Linked DNA regions of Homo sapiens: region 2 is linked to region 1. Evidence: fine-mapped expression QTL. Tissue or cell type: whole blood. Region 1 holds a variant in brackets; the other region holds the start of a gene. All regions are shown on one strand. Distances are from middle to middle.

The links. PIP is the estimated chance that this variant, and not a neighbour inherited with it, causes the effect.
Region 2: it holds the start of NT5C3A, and the variant in region 1 is fine-mapped to the expression of NT5C3A in whole blood (INTERVAL, PIP above 0.99).

What each region holds. Positions count from the first base shown.
Region 1 is chr7:33,013,079-33,015,761 of GRCh38, forward strand. It overlaps NT5C3A (5'-nucleotidase, cytosolic IIIA), which reads right to left. Exons shown (of 9, transcript NM_001002010.5): 8 at 2,592-2,683; 9 at 1,052-1,753. The coding sequence ends at 1,652. Among named protein-coding and RNA genes, the nearest start is that of NT5C3A, 48 kb to the right of the region's middle. The variant CTT/C (reference allele first, on the strand shown) is at 1,424.
Region 2 is chr7:33,061,465-33,064,147 of GRCh38, forward strand. It overlaps NT5C3A (5'-nucleotidase, cytosolic IIIA), which reads right to left and starts at 1,312. Exons shown (of 9, transcript NM_001002010.5): 1 at 1,104-1,312. The coding sequence starts at 1,241. LOC124901610 (a long non-coding RNA gene) reads left to right here and starts at 1,721. Exons shown (of 4, transcript XR_007060279.1): 1 at 1,721-2,184; 2 at 2,565-2,683. RefSeq lists silencers at 947-1,006, 1,307-1,426 and an enhancer at 1,667-1,826.

The sequences.
Region 1 (2,683 bases):
TTGGCCTCCCAGAATGCTGGGATTACAGATGTGAGCCACTGCACCTGGCCTCATTATTTTTATGCTTTTTTGAGATAAGTTCTTGCTCTGTTGACCAGCCTGGAGTGCAGTGGTGCAATCACAGCTCACTGCAGCCTCAACCTCCCCAGGCTCAGGTGATTCTCCCACCTCAGCCTCCTGTGTAGCTGGGACTACAGGTGCATCACCATGCCTGGCTAATTTTTTGTAGAGACTGGGGTCTCCCTATGTTGCCCAGGCTGATCTCAAACATCTAGGCTCAAGCGATCCACTCGCCTTGGCCTCCCAAAGTGCTGGGATTACAGGTGTGAGCCTCCGTGCCTGGCCTGCTTCATTGCTTATGATGATGAAAAGGAGTGGTGGGGGAGGATAAGGATGGGCATTCCCAGGACAAAAAGGTTTCCTAACATGTGACCTTGCCTTCCAGCCACATCTGACTGAACTAGAGACTGCTGCTCACACTGGATGGCCAGAATGAATCAGATCATGCTTTGTGTGTATCATAGCTCAGGTGCTTATATAAGCAAACCAATTAGGTGTTCATAGGATCTGGAATTAAGGGTAAGAATCACGGTCAAATTGATCACAATGGCAGGTCTAAATCCTGAAGATGAATGATGAGGCAGAGCCAGAGATGTGGAGTGGGTAGCTGGACTGTACAGAGAGATGCTGGCTCCTAATGTCGCAGTGCTGCTCAGATTCAGTCACCACGAGACCCAGCTCCACTGCTTCCTGTCTCGGCTTCTGAAACTTGCAGACTTGTACCTTTTACTGATGTTTTAAATGGGAGAAAATAATTTTCAGAGGTCTCAGTATTTTCTGAAGGGCAGACAAAATTTTCCCTGAAATATCTTTAGACTTAAATAATTTCTGAAAATATTCAATCTAAATAGCCACTATGACAAGGACTTTAGAATTTATATATCACAAAAGACAGGCAGACGGAGAGAAAGAAACAAGAAGAAAACAAAAAACCATGGTAGGTGCTCAATAAATATTTGTTGACTCAGTAAAGATAGTTTTGACCATAGAATTAAAAAGGTTTTGCATTTCATATTTATTATCAGTGCTTCAATATAGAATGTTTTGTAATGATTAGCAACATTGTAAACACCACCAGGTTTTTCCAACACTAACTGCTAGTCTTTTCCAGTAAATATTTTTTCCCCAGACAAAATAACCAAACCTAACACAATTTCAAGAGATGGTGATACCATCAGCATAATAACCCAAATTACAAAAATGGCAATACTTAAAATCATGCATATTATTTCACCATTTCATAAAACTTATTTTAAAATTTCTACAAACTTTCCCAGTGTAAAAGACTCCTCAAAAGCTGCATGATAACATTAAACTACAAAATTCACTTTGGAAAAGTAGGGAGTTATTTTTCTAATTTTAG[CTT/C]TTTTTTTTTTTTAAATGGGTTAAAAGATACGGTGAGGAGTGTGTTGAGAGAGGTGGAGAAAAGGAGCTTCCAGTCAATGCATTCACCATATCTGAAAATACTTCAGTTATACAAAGGGAACACTTCGAGAGTAAGGATATATTATAAATAAGTCTCTCAGCAAGATGAACGGATGAACAGTTCAATTGCACCCACAGGAGAGAGGTCTTCTTGGAGAATGCTTGTTTATAGAATCTTCTGTAAAATAGAGTTGGCTACTTCTAATGATTCATCTTGTACTAAAACAATATCATAAGAGTCCATGTACTTTTCTAAAAGCTCATCCACCTAATCAAGAGATGAACAAAAGAAAATTAACATGCAGGGCAAAGAAACAAATAATTTCAGTATGAATCTCGTTGTTAGATCTCTTGGGCAAAATGCAATAAATTAAATTCACTTTCAAAAAATCTTTGAAATGAAGAAATATTTTCAAATCCTTAAGACCCACTGACAGACATTTTTCCACATGGTAGCTTTTCTCCCCAAAATGCTCTCTCTCCAGTCCAGTGGCTTTCAAATGGGGTGATTTTTGTCCACGGAACATTTAGTAACGTCTAGGGACATTTTTGAGTCTCATGGCAGGAGACTGCTATCCAGCATCTAGTGGGCAGAAGACACAGAGGCCTCCTACAGAATACACATCCTCCCTTTTCCCAGTACCTATAGCATGCATCTCAGCTCCTTTTTAAACATCACCAGTATAAAGAACAATCAAAATGCATGATCACAATATGTTTTGGCTGGGCATAGTGGCTCACGCCTGTTATCCCAAGCACTTTGAGAGGCCTGGAGAATCACTTGAGCCCAGGAGTTTGAGACCAGCTTGGGCAACACAGGGAGAATTCATCTCTAAAAAAAATTTAAAAATCAGCCAGGTGTAGTGGTGTGCGCCTGTAGTTCCAGCTACCTGAGGGGCTGAGGTGGGAGCATTGCTTGAGCCGGGAAGGTCGAGGCTGCAGTGAGATGTGATTGCATCACTACACTCTAGCCTCGGTAACAGAGGCTTGTCTCAAAAAAAAAAGTCTCTAAAATAACTACTTTCTCAGGTGACTATGGCAACAATTGCCTATCAAGTTTCATCCTAATATTTTCTTCGAAAAAAATTACAGATTTGTATACTTACTCTATCATTTAGATATCCAATTTTCAGAATGTGCTCAACATTGGCCACTCCATCTGCCATTCTTAAGTCTCCTTGGGAGTCTCCCAGAAGAA
Region 2 (2,683 bases), 48 kb after region 1:
TATAACCTTGAACTCCCAGACTCCAGTGATCTTCCTCTCAGCCTCCCAAATAGCTGGGACACTGGCTAATTTTAATTATGCAAATACATCTGTATTCAACCTGGGGTCAGTACAACCAATAGGACAAATCGTGTCTTTCGTCAGTTGGAACATATTGCAGGTGCTCAGAAATTCCAAGTATTACACCCTAAAATGATATTATTTAGTGTAGATTTTAAATTTTTTTCTATCATAAATCATCTGACCCTAGATGTTCACATGTATAGCACACGGTCAGGCGTATACCCAGGATTATGCATTTCAGGAAATACATAAGCGTGCAAGTTTGTGCAAGAATTGTCTTCCTGAGTGGGTTCTAATTAAAATACAAAACGAAACTAAATATCCTCATTTTTGAAACAATTACTTATAATGTATCTCAAAGGGAATTCTTGAGACACCCTCTTCAATAAAAAATTAAATTCGAAAATGTATACAAGAGCTTTGGGAGTTAAGATGAAAACAAAGATATTTCGTGGGAGTTTTGAGACAAGAAGGAATACATTCAAATACAAAATAAACTATCCTGAATTTCTCCTGGATTGCCATTCTTGTAAAATTTTAGATATTGCACATTTTCATAATCTAACTCACGGCAGCCCCAACATAAAACTAGTCCTCTGCGGGAATTGCAACTAGATTAGCGGCAACGGTTTGACGCGGATCCGGGGGGAGGGCGGGAGCAAGGCAGGGAGAGAAGGAGCCACCTGCCCAGGACATGCAGCTTATCTCTAGAGAAACGGGTTTTGCAGCACAAAGTAGCCTGTGTCCGATTCATCTATTTTCTGCCTTGTTCCTTCAAACGGAAACCTAACAAAGACCACGGGCAGCCAAGGGCCGCAGCCGGGGACCCAACCCTGGTCACCAAGCCCGCGGAGTGGCCGCACGCGGGGCGGCCGGGTCCCCCAAGCTGCGCGTCCCGAGCTAGCGAGATCCCAGCCTGACAGGCGACGCCGGCAGCTCCCCGTCGCGACCGAACAGCGGCCCAGCACAGGCTGCCGAGGCCAGCGGACGGCCCAGCCGGCCCCTCGCGTGCTCTGGGCGCGCCGAGCCTCCACACTCACCATCTCGATGATCTTGGTCTTCCGCCCCGTCTTCCTCTTCAAGGTGAATATGTACTGAGCCAGCACCACCCCCGCCACCAGGGCGCACACGCTGGCGCTCGCTACCGCGCCCACCCTCGCCACGGCCGCGCGGTCCATGGACGGGGCCCTCATGCGCGTCCAAGCAGGAAAAAAACAGGCAGCTCGCGTAGACTGCGAGTCTCGGAAGCGCGGGATCCCAGAGCATCACGGACGAGCCCGCGACGCCCCGCCCCGCGCAGCGACGCCCCGCCCCGCGCAGCTCCGCCCCCACGAAGCCCCACCCACACGCCATCGATGGGAGAGGCCAGGACGCGGCGGGAGGGGTGTGGCCTGTGCCCGGAGCCCAGGCTGGAGGCGGCCTTCAGCAGACTCAGGGTCTCACGAGCTGCTGTCAGGGCAGGGCAGAGTATTGCGGTAATTATCCTTCTCTGCTAATGAGGATTAGGCCGTGGTTCGCTCGAGCCCCGCCCCAGTAGAAATCTAATTCCAACTGCGGCCCGCTAAGAAGTCGGTCTCCGCCTTCGCGCCTCAGCCCCTCTGGACTCCGACCCCCAGAAGGCTGCGCGGCACGGTGTGACCTGCGCAGTGGCGTCCGTTCTAAGTGCTATAACAACAGGGGGAAGATGGCTCAGAGTTAGGCTGGAGAGGGGCGGTGTCCCTTCCGCCGCAGCCGCGGGGTTTCTGCTACATCCCATTCGCCACCTCCGCCATCCTTTTTTCTGTGTGAGCAGAAGGGCTTGCAGTTGTTCTCTCCTGCCTAGTGTCTTCCAAGGGATAGATGCCATTTCTTCTGCTGGTCTCTGGGGGTGAGGAGGGGCGCAGGGGAGCTTCTTGGGGGAATCGCTCCAACTCTGTGGAGCTGGTGGTGCTGCCTGGTGGGGCTCTCTCTGCCCAGGACGTGGAACAACTTTCAGCCGGAGGACTAGAGGAAATAGTTGTAGGGGAGGAAAAATTGTTTCCTTCTAGCCTTTTAGGTCATTTGGCTGGTCTACAAATTAAATTGATGTAAGACAGAGGAACATGAGAAAAACGATTTGTCGACCGAAAGGTGAAATAACAGGTACTAAAACTTAAAGAAATCATGGTTAGTTTTATTACTCGGCCAAGTTTGAGGACTTAAGCCTGGGAACACAGACTCAGTATAGACCGAGAACGTGTCCCAAAGTAAGTTAGCTGGGAGTATAACCTGAAGAAGACTGAGTTTTAATACCCAGAATATTTGAGTATCAATATCTAGACTACTGTGTCATTTTGTCGCCAAAGTAATTTTTTATGAATCCAGTTTTGCACCAAATACCAATATGACTTAAATGTTGTCTGATTGTGAGGCCTAAGATGGTCACAGTCTCATTTATCTTTCTTCCTCAACAAAAACATTTTCCATATATTACATATTATTTTGAATGGGTAGAGACTAAAGCCACGTTTCTATAATTTCAGGATTTTAAACATTTTGTAGACGATAACATTCGTCTTGAAGCTGTGGACAATCTAAAACAGAAATGGAGTTCCAAATTTTGTTTTTGTAATATGGCCCGTCAACTGCACATGGGAAGAAT